3 linked regions of the Homo sapiens genome follow. The protein of the gene in region 2 purifies or fractionates together with the protein of the main gene of each other region. This does not show direct contact. Each region holds a gene or a part of one and is shown on either strand. Other genes may lie near its edges.

What was found.
Region 1: the proteins of PCDHAC1 (region 2) and TNFRSF10B purify together in Homo sapiens (affinity purification with mass spectrometry; one large-scale study listed by BioGRID and IntAct). This does not show direct contact.
Region 3: the proteins of PCDHAC1 (region 2) and ACVR2A purify together in Homo sapiens (affinity purification with mass spectrometry; one large-scale study listed by BioGRID and IntAct). This does not show direct contact.

Annotation. Positions count from the first base shown.
Region 1 is NC_000008.11:23,041,366-23,045,151, forward strand, and holds part of TNFRSF10B (tumor necrosis factor receptor superfamily member 10B isoform 1 precursor), read right to left. Parts: intron 1,879-3,786; coding exon 1,773-1,878; intron 1-1,772. UniProt on the Homo sapiens protein: Receptor for the cytotoxic ligand TNFSF10/TRAIL. The adapter molecule FADD recruits caspase-8 to the activated receptor.
Region 2 is NC_000005.10:140,932,769-140,936,554, forward strand, and holds part of PCDHAC1 (protocadherin alpha-C1 isoform 1 precursor), read left to right. Parts: intron 1-3,786. UniProt on the Homo sapiens protein: Potential calcium-dependent cell-adhesion protein. May be involved in the establishment and maintenance of specific neuronal connections in the brain.
Region 3 is NC_000002.12:147,851,409-147,855,194, forward strand, and holds part of ACVR2A (activin receptor type-2A isoform 1 precursor), read left to right. Parts: intron 1-3,786. UniProt on the Homo sapiens protein: On ligand binding, forms a receptor complex consisting of two type II and two type I transmembrane serine/threonine kinases.

The DNA.
Region 1 (3,786 bases), on a different chromosome or scaffold from region 2:
AATTTTTATTAGAATTTTGGACCCAGCGCAGTGGCTCACGCCTGTAATCCCAACACTTTGGAAGGCCGAGGTGAGAGGATCGCTTGAGCCCAAGTGGTTGAGGCTACAGTGAGCTATGATCCTGCCACCGCACTCCAGCCTGGGCAACAGAGTGAAATCCTATCTCAATCAGTCAATCAATCAATCAATCAATGTATAATTTCCCTAATCTGTAAGAATTCATGTGACTCAATGATTTAAAAAAAAAAAAAAAAAAAACCTAACCTCTTACTAGGAGTGAAGAAAACCTAGGAGAACCAGTGTACAAACAGTGTCTGTGTCATGAACAGATTCTTGACCTCATTCACAGGAAGAGAAATGCACATTTCGAGGAGTTTCCACATCTCAGTCCTTGACACTTGCTATGGCCTGCTCCCTGTGGCTGGAAGGGCCATCTCTCCTCTAGGATGGAAGTTCTCCAACTGCTCCTGCTCAGCCCATTGCAGTCCTGTCTCCCTGGCCTATCGTCTCCAACTTCAAATCCTCATGGGCTCAGTTGTGCCCCTCCTCAGTATTTACAACTTCTTCCAGGTGGACACACTCAAGACAGCGGCTTCAAGCATCACCTATGTGCTAGGGTCCCCAAATGTGTACTGCTAGCCCTGCCACACACTGTCCCCTCAGAGGCCAAGTTACCCTGAGCAGTTGAATTTGGTGCCTCGATTGTCCTCATTCCCCACACGTCATCCATCCACACCCCAAATATGTCTTGAGTCCTTCCTATTCCCGTCCTGCTTCCTGGTCTTGACCCTGGACCACAGCAATAGGAGCATTTACAGATGAGTTTGTGTCTGCTTCACGCTGGGTTCTTCCTTCTCCATGCTCTGCTCCTGGCAAGCCCACATGTGCAATGTGAGGGTTTGCCCTCAGGCAAGCCTTTCCTGTGGCCCTTAGTCATGGAAAAGAAATGCAACTTTGTAAATGGATTTTAAAAGCCACTGCTTGCCACACTTGCCTGCCCTGGAAACCTTCATGCAGCAATCAATTCCTAACTCATACACATGGGGGAAAAGGGGGAAGAAGTGCGAGGCGAACACAACAGTCAAGCACACTTCAGGCCAGGTTCCTGCTGCATCTCTGGGGGCTCAAATGACCTTACGGGACACCACATAACATCCCAGGGGAGCGCCTCACACTCAAGGCCCTCCACCTGCTTCCTGTCTTGCTCCGGTTCAGTCCAGGAGTGGGCACTCAAGATGTACATCCGATGCTGGTGGCCCTCTGCTGAAAACTTCTCAGGGACATCCATCACTCATGAAATAAAATCCAGCTTCATCTGTGTGGGATCTGACCCCACGTGTCTCTCTAACTTCCTAACCCTCCACTCCCCACAGCAGCCCCCTGCTGTTGCTCCATCTTCTCCAACTCTTGCCCCCTGGCAATTGTTCCAGTGGAACCCTCCTAGGAGCACTCTTCCTGGCTCTCTGAACCTCTGGCCCTGCCCTCCTCCGGATGTCAGCCCAAAGTCACCATTGCCTGGAGGCCTCACCAGCCCCATCTCTGTCCCACTCAATTCTCTCTCAAGGTTCCTATCAGTTTCTTTGGCTGTCTCATTCATTTGTGTGTCTTGATACCATCCTAGCAGGAAGGCTCCAGAAGGACAGAGCCTTGAACTGGAGGCACCCAATGCCTCTCTGTGGAATAAAGAACAAGGAAGTGCAAAGGAAACAGACTGGAAGCTCATGGAGACAAGGGGAGGAGGGGCAAGGATTAGAGACCCATCTTGAACATACCAGGTGGACACAATCCCTCTGAGGGGCTGGACCTCTTTTGTTGTGGGGCCGCTCTCTGCTGGGGAGCTAGGTCTTGTTGGGTGATCAGAGCAGACTCAGCTGAGACCTGTGGGGACAAAGCAGGGATGGGCATGAGTGGCTTCCAGACCTCACCCCTCCCAGGATCCACTCACATTCTCTTGAGCCCAGGCACCCAAGCTAAACAGAACCCTCATCTTTCTTGCAGCTCTCACCTCTCAAACATCCTTTAGTGTTTGTTTGTCCCTTCATATTTCAGGGAAGGCCAAGTAACATACACCTGCAAAACTCTTCTAAACATGTTCATTCCAGAAAATGTGGGCAAGGAAAGTTTTTACAAGAATACACAGACCACACGTGATATTCTCAGCTAAAGATAGCATCCATTAATATTTTGTCTCATTTAGTTCCACTATTTTTCCATAGGTATGCCTATTCTCTCTTTCTCTCTTTCTCTTATTCTCTCTCACACAGACATACACACAGACACACATTTTTATAAATGGGGGTTATAATATAGCAAACTTAAAAAATTGGGATACAGGATCAAACATTAAATAGTGAACTTCTGATTTAAAAGGTGCCTGACATATAGACCAGAGAGCCCAGAAATGAACTTGCACGTACAACCATGTATTGCTCAACATTGTTCTGAGCAAAGGGTCATTAGGCAATTGTGTTGTGTGAACATCAGAAGAGTGTACTTACACAAACCTAGATGGTGTATCCTATGACACACCTGGCCTATATGGTATAGCCTTTTGCTCCTAGGCTACAAACCTGTGTAGCATGTTACATAATTGCATGGAGCCACCATCACATATGCAGTCTGTTGTTGACAGAAATGTTGTTATGTGGTGCATGACTGTATATGATCAAGTAATTTTTGGCAAAGGTATAAAGACCATTTAATTGAGAGGACAATCTTTTTAAAAATGGTCTTGGGAAATCTAGACATTGACTCATCACAAAACAATGACCTCGGACCTTTAACTTACACGTATACAAAAATTAACTCAAAATGGATCCAAAATCTAACATAAAAGTGAAAACCCTAAAACTTAGAAGAAAACATAGGAACTATTCTTCCTGACCTTGGATTTGGCAATGATTTCTTGAATGTGATCCCCAAAACACAAGCAATATAGGAAAAAAAGTAGATAAATTGCACTATGTAAAAATTAAAAACTTTTGTGCATCCAATGATGATCAACAGTGAAGGGGCAACCCACAGGAAGAGGAAAACATTTGCTAGTTGTATATCTGATAAAAGGTTAATATCTAAAATATATAAAAAACTCCAACTCAACAACAACAACAAAAAGCCAACAATGTGATTAAGAAATGAACAAAGAACTTGAATGGTAACAAGCTCCTGAATAGCCAATGTGTCAAAGAGGAAATCAAAAGGGAATTTTAAGAGTATATTAGAAAATGAAATGGAAACATAACATAACCAAATGTATGGGATGCAGCAAAAGCAGTTTTAAGAGGAAATGGCAATAAACGCCTACATCAAAAAAGAAGAAAGATCTCAAATACAAGACTTAATGTTGTACCTCAAGGAAATAGAAGAAAAGATACACTAAGCCCACAGTTAGCAGAACAAAAGAAATAATAAAAATCAGAGCAAAAATAAATAGAGACTGAAAAAAATACAAAAGATTATCAAAATTCTGTTAGTTTTTTGAAAAAATAAATGAAATCACTAAACTTTAACTAGACTAACTAAGAAAAAAGAAAGAAGACAAATAAATTAAATCAAAAATGAATGAGGAGGCCAGGTGCAGTGGCTCATGCCTATAATCCCAGCATTTTGGGAGGCCGAGACGGATGGATCACTTGAGGCCAGGAGTTGGAGACCAGCCTGGCCAACATGGCAAAACCTCGTCCCTAATAAAATACAAAAAAAAAAAAAAAAAAAAAAAGCCAGGCATGGAGGTGTGCATCTGTAATCCCAGCTACTTGGGTGGCTGGGGCACAAAAATCACTTGAA
Region 2 (3,786 bases):
TAATTTGAGTGGACATAAGAGAAAAGCAATACCTTGGAAACATATAAGTGGGAAAGTATTGACAATGTGTCTCATAATGTTAATGACTTATTGTCTTTTGTTGTCTTCAATATTTTCAGTTAGAGGGAAACAATAATATTTCAACAACTAAATTAACTTAGCTAGGTTGGAATGAAGGTGGACTAAATTGCTGAAAGGTTTTTACAATGCTCAAATGCATGTCATATGAATATCGGAAATATTAACACTTGGCAGAACTTCAAGTGAATATGGATTACAGTCCAGGATCCTGACTAAAGTATTATGGGAAGTAAGGAATTTGTTGGTAAAGGTTGTTCTTAAGAAACAAAGCTAAATAATAAAGGTAGATAGCCACTCATTTTGTTCCCAATTTTAATTGATGGCATAAGATAATGGTTCAGGATATAAATAAATTACATGTCTGTTATATTGCATTTATGAAAAAGAAAGGACTATAAACACAAAAGGTTATTATATATTCATTTGGAACTTGTTTTGGAATCTGGAAATAAATATGCAATCTCGTATTCTCCTGTGCTGTAGAGAAAGATAAACACTTTATTTCTAACCCATCCCAAATTCCTTGGCTGTTCCTAGAGCCATCTGGTTACCATCTACAGATATTCTGTGTTCATAGGGGCACTCTAATGACATACCTTCAAAATATACTCTGAATTCAAACACATTATGGTTATTCTTTAGAATTGTTAAGCAAAGACTACAGCTGTTTTGTTTAAACTCAAAATAATGTTAATATAAAATAAAAACCAATTAAGAAGTCTTAATAGTGGGTTTTTAGGTTGATTTGTCTTTTTCTTTTCTTATTAGGTTAGGCTGGCCCTGTTAAACAAGTTGGAAATCCTGTCTCTCTCTCTGTCTCTCTCACATTTTTTTTCCTATTCCTCGGACACATTTACTGAGATTGGTGATACAGCTTTCTTAAATATTTGGTAGAATTCACTAGTGAAGCTCTCTGTACCTACAGTTTTCTTTGTAGGAAAATTTTAATTGAGATCAAATTTCTTTGTATTTTTATTGCTCCTATTTCATTCCTGTACCTTTAATTTTTTCAGATATATGTTAGTTTTATCTGTACTTTTGAATATTTTGGCATAAAGTTGTTTATAATGTCCTGTTGTGACTTTTTTTCACATCTGCAGGATCTGTAGTGATGTTTCCCTTTTCAATCCTGGTGTTAGTGTCACCTCTCATTTTTCTTGACTAGACTTGGAAGTAGTTTATTAATGATATTAGTCTTTCCAAGGCTAACTTTTGGTGTTTTGGGTTCGCTTTGTTGTATGTTTGCTTTCTATTTTATTAATTTTCATACTTTATTAATTTATTTCCTTCCTTATATGTTTATATTTCAGTGTGCAACAGAAGTACTCTAAACATACTTTTCATTTCTATTTCCTCACACAAAATGTTTAAAAGATTTGTACTTAATTGTGGAGATTTATCAAAATTAATAATAATCAGTGCTTCATCAAGGGCATTCTTACTGGTATTTTTCTTACTGCAAATGTCCAATCATGAATGTAATAACCACCAGTACAGTGTGGAGCCACTGCTTTGACTCCTTCTGTGGTTCTATGGTGGCCAGCTTTACCCACCAATGCTTTTGCATTATCAATGCAAGTGTAAATATAGTGAAAAATGCAAATAATGTTTTAACATTATTTTGAAAATTATATTCACCTCATAAACACCCAAAGGGTCCATAGACCACACTTCGAGAGCTACCGTTCTAATTCTATCATTTCTTCTTTTTTTTAATTAATTGTAACATTTCTGTAATGGGTCTTCAACTATTTGATTAGCCTGAGGTACAGTTCACACAGGAAAGGCAGGATAAATGTTTGATTCTTCCCCTTTGTTTAGCAGTATTCAAAACAATGAATTGATTCCTGGCCATCTTACAAAAAGGACCAAGGCCTTTTTTAGGTGTCATTATGAACTCATTGACTTAAACATATTTGATATGGCCCAATCCATGTCAATTATCTTTTTAATGATCAAATTATGCTAACTTTGGCAAGTTGGGAACTGTTCAGCTTTGCTCCTGAGTCTTTGTGAGTGTGTTTGTGTATCTTGTTTTAAACCTTTTATTTTGGAATAATTATGGATTCACATAAAGTTACAAAACTAGTATAGAGAGATCCCATGTGCTTGTCACCCACTTTTCCCCAGTGATAACACCCTGAATCCTTTTCATGTGAGTCTTAATAGTCTTTTGAATGCTTCCTTGATTTCTGGTATTACAAGATGTTCAGATTATCTTGTACATTTCCTTTCCCAGAATCAGCCATTTTTCAAAGAGCTTTCACTTATTTTTAGTGAAAGATGATACTTAGAGATATAATCTCAACAACAGGTGTGCTTATTGCTGCTGGGTCAGTTGCTGTTTCTAGGTATCTTCAGCTACTGAGCTAAGGGATGTCTATTTTTTAAAAGATAAAATACATCACATGTTTATACTAATCTAATAAAGTTCAGCACTCCGAGGTTTTTACTTAACTTCATCAATCTTACATTCCTATTTCTCCCATACGTCAAATCCCAGTTTTCATTAACGTCAACAGAATTACTCATTTGTTATCCCACGGGACTCAAACAATGGACTTAGAAAACAATTTCAGCACTACAGAAATAATATGATACTGTAGCAGTTTAAGTTTTTGTCATTCTTTTCATTTATAAGGCACATCCTTACAAATGCCCAGTAGGCATGTACAGTCAAATTATTGTGTTTTAAAGTATCTTGGAAAAGTTCCTCTCTGTGTAGTTAAGCCACCAGCTAGATACAGAGCTAGGCTTTTTTCAAGTCGCTTTCAAATTTAGGGCTTGCTTTTTAAATTTTAATTTTCTTTTATAATTATGTGAAATATTTACATGGCTCCAAAATAAACTTATAAAACAAAATATATTTAGAGAAGTCTAGTATCTATTATTCCATACAATACACATTCTTCCCCACTTTGAGTTTTTTCACTTAAAAATATAAACGAGATTATTTCATAGTAGTATAGTATTTACACATATTCCATACTGCTTAATGGTGTCTTTTGATTAGCAATTAATGAGCTCCAATTTATCAATATTATCTTTTTTTTTTTTTTTTGAGACAGATTCTCATTCTGTTGCCCAGGCTGGAGTAAAGTGGTACAATCTTGGCTCACTGCAATCTCTGCCTCCCGGGTTCAAGCGATTCTCCCACCTCAGCCTCCCGAGTAGCGGGGATTACAGGCACCCACCACCACACCCGGCTAATTTTTATACTTTTAGTAGAGACAGGGTTTCACCATGTTGGCCAGGCTGGTCTCGAACTCCTGACCTTAAGTGATCTGCCCGCCTTGGCCTCCTAAAGTGCTGGGATTAGAGGCCTAAACCACCACGCCCAGCCAAAGTTGTCTTTTTTATTTAGTATTCTTTCTATCCTTTTAAAGAAAACATATCCTGCTTCAAGTCATGAAGATATATTCCTGTGTTTTCTTCTATAACATTGCTATCCAATAGAACTTTCTGACATGCTATAAATTTTCTCTATCTGCATATATGGAATGTGTAGCTACTGAGCACTTGAAATGTGGCTAGTGAAACTGGGCTACTCAATTTTTAATGTTACTAATTTTAATTAATTTAAGCTTAAATAACCACATCTGTTTAGTGGTTGCTGTAGTTCTGGAAGCTTTCTTGTTTTAACTTGCACATTTAGATCTTAAATTACCTGAAATTGCTTTTGAATATAGTGCAATGTAGAAGTCA
Region 3 (3,786 bases), on a different chromosome or scaffold from region 2:
AGTGCCTACCTCAGAGAGTGGTTTGAATATTAAATGCTAGTTATTCTGCTGCAGCTTCTCCTCAGCCTGAGTACTATATTCCATCCATACAGACTTGACTTGCAGTTTCTTAAATGTGTAATCCTTTATTGTATATCAGTATGGTGCCTTTGTACATATTACTCTTCCTCTTCTACCTGGCTAACCCCTTTTTGGTTTTAAGACTGAGAAGTATCACCTCTTTAGAAACATTTTCTCTGTCACTCAACCCAGATTGAGTTAGTTGCTTTCTGTTCATCTAACACCTTGTAAATGACCTTGATTTCAGTAATAATTGCAAATGTTTACTTGCCTGTTTCCACTTTAGACTGTGCAAATGTTTACTTTCCTGTTTCTACTCTTTGAAGACATCTTTCCTTTATCCACACACCCATTCCTGGAACCTGGTACACAATAGGTGCTCAGCAAATGTTTATTAAATGAATGAAATGAAATTATTTCACTTCTCTGAGCCACGGTTGTCCTCTTAATGTATTGAAGTGGTGAACTTGGATTAGATGATCCCTGATTTTTTTTCCTACTCTGAAAGCTTTATGGTTCTATAATTTTAAGGTTAGAGTTCAGTGGTGACATTTTATTAAGAAAAGATGATTTTGCTCATTGTTTTGATATCTTTAAGTTATGTTCAAATTTAAATTTTTTTAAATAATTAAAATTAGAATTTGAATTATATAGATTTAGAGGGGATCTTAGGTATCCTCATGTTCCATGGCTTTCATACTTTTTTGACTGTAATACACAATAGGAATTACACATTGCATTATGACTTAGTTCCCATGTAGTAGTAGGGGTGTATGTATATATGTCTGTGTGCATCAGAAATGAAAGTTTCATGAACTGTGTACTCTTAACTATGTGCAGGACACTTATGTATTTTTATATTACATTTCATTTAAAAAACATTGATCGTGACCCATTAATTGATTCATTGACCAACTAATGGATTGTAAATCCCTAAAACCAGTGACCTAGTTCAACAATCCTTATTTCCTGTATTCAGTACTCTCTTAGTGGAAAAGGAAGCTTCATATGTAAATGTGTGCAATGAAAAATATATGCACTGAAAAATATGGTCATTAATTAATCTACAATAGAGACTGTGTGCCTAGGTATAGAATATAGGGAAAACTGGTCTCAAGGGAGAACATGGCTCTTCCCTGATTAAGGTCTTCTCTCTTTTGGACTAGTCGAATAAATTAAGCACACACGAAGGCGCTGAAACAACATTAGATTGTAATTTTGGGGAGTTGGGATTTTTTAATTTAGGAAAGACTTGCTGGACTTAGTACTGGAAAAAAAGTCTTAGACGGAGATTAGGAAGGATGTTAATATGAAGGAAAAGACACAAAATAGCATCAGGAACACAATAGCCATTTGAGAGTAAACTTGACCATGGATGAAGGCAAGGTGGGATGGAGAAATTTTGACTAAATCTGAGGAAGAGATTTGTGTGATGAAGAGAGTTCACAATTGCTTGAAGAAGTAGGACAATCTCAGGGGGTTAACCCTTAAATTCAAATGAAAAGTAATTAAAACTGAGGAGGTAAGAGTGGATGATACATATCCTGATGTATGTCCCAAATACCCCATATGTGGATATAGGACTGAAAAGCAACTCGAAGACTAAGGTAGAATGGTAGCACTACTAAATAAAATTGGTAAGGAAGTAATGAGCCAGAGGAAAATTGAAAGTGCCTTCATAACTAAAAAAGTTTACAGATAGATATAGTTTTAGATGATAAGCATGAATAGAAATAAAGACATGTATTTGGAAAAATAAGAGTACATAATAAAACATGATAACGTAATATTCTCTTAAAGAGGCAGACACTGTATGATGGATATGTCTTCATTGTGAAGTCTAGTTAAAGAATTCTAAACATTAGTGGCTCAATATGTTGTTTATGTTTAAATGATGGTCAAATTTCAGTAATTACTCATACTGGTCATCCAGATTATATTCTTTGAAATCTGTATGAGACCCTACAGTAAAATACACTGTTCTAAGGAAGTAGATTTAGATGCTTTTCTGAATTTGGTATATGGTATTCACGCTTGAAACCTAAACTTTTCAGTGACCATTCTTTTGGACTAGTTTTTTCTTTGGTTGGCTGTAGTCACACTGGGAATTACTTTATTCTCTAATATTGCTAAAGAAAATAAATGTAAAGCAAGAAGAGAGTTACTACATTAGAAGGACTGGCTACACATGTGGGGAGGGGTTGCCTTTCAAAAGATTTTAAAAATGAATCAAGTCTTTACATATTGTAATAAAAGTAAGCCTATTTATAAAGCTTAGAGGGAGGAGTTTTCGTAGTTATGATTATTAACTTTAAAATTTTTATTTTAAAGGAAAAGTTTATTGTTCTTCCCATCTTCATAACTATATGTGATATATCAAGCTTGCTCCAAGGCATTATTTCAAGAGGAAGGGGCATGGACAAGTTATGAGATCTTGGCACATTTCTAAAACTCTGAGATTAACTTTTAAAATTTGTAAACCAAGATGTATTAAATGAATTGATAACTCCACATAACATGGTAGCTGGTCCAGAGTAGATCTTACATATTAGTTTTTAATCTATCTTTAAGTCCCATTTAAAAGGATATGGTATGTAAAACATTAAAAAATATAGATTTGGTTCTTGGGGGATATTTACATTTGCAGGTTACTTATCAGTCAGTTAATGTGAAATAATACTCTGACTAAATGATACAGCCAAAGAACATATCATTATAGAGAGCCAGATAGCTGCCAATAAATATCTAGAATATTCAGATATCGTGGTTCCTTACAAAGAGTTCTTTAAGGTCTCACTGTTTTAGCATGCATTAAAAAGAAACAATGGACTAAATCGTCTCTATTTATTAGTGGGAATTTAAAATATCTTTTTTTCTTGGACAACTTCTCTTAAACTTTTTAAGTGTTTTAAAACTTTTTAGTAGAAGTAAAGTTTTGAAAGATTCTCAAGTCTGTTTTTTAGGTACCAGCTACTTTAAGCTTTGAAAACACAAAGCTATTCAATGACTGTACTTTGAGATCAATATTTTGAATGTGGTATAATATTTTGGACTAAAACTTAAGAGTCTGTCATTCAAATTCCTACTTTCCTACTGACTCTTCTTTGACCTTTGACAGCCATTAAGATTTCACTTTACTCACCCTAAATTAAAGAGGGTGAAATAGGTATTCATTCACTTAACAAATCAATATTGAACTACATGCTAGACACTATGGTAAGTGCTTGGGATACATTATTAAACATGAAGACAGATATGATTATGCCTTTCTGAAGCTTATAGTCATAAAGTAAGTAGTCAAATGAACAACATAATTACAGATTGTCATACGTGCTCGGACAGAAACTAACAGGGTGCCGAGAGGATTACTCTTTATTTGCCTTATCACATATCACATCTGTTTACTTTATCTGCCTATTTCTTTTTTTTTTGAGACTGAGTCTCGCTCTGTTGGCCAGGCTGGAGTGCAGTGGTGCAATCTTGGCTTACCACAACCCCAGCCTTCCAGTTCAAGTGATTCTCCTGCCTCAGCCTCCTGAGTAACTGGGACTACAGGCATGCGCCACCATGCCTGGCTAATTTTTGTATTTTTGGTAGAGAGGGGGTTTAACCATGTTGGGCAGGCTGGTCTCGAACTCCTGTCTCAAGTGATCTGCCCTCCTTGGCCTCCCAAAGTGCTGGGATTACAGGTGTGAGCCACCGCGCCTGGCCTATTTCTTATTTGTC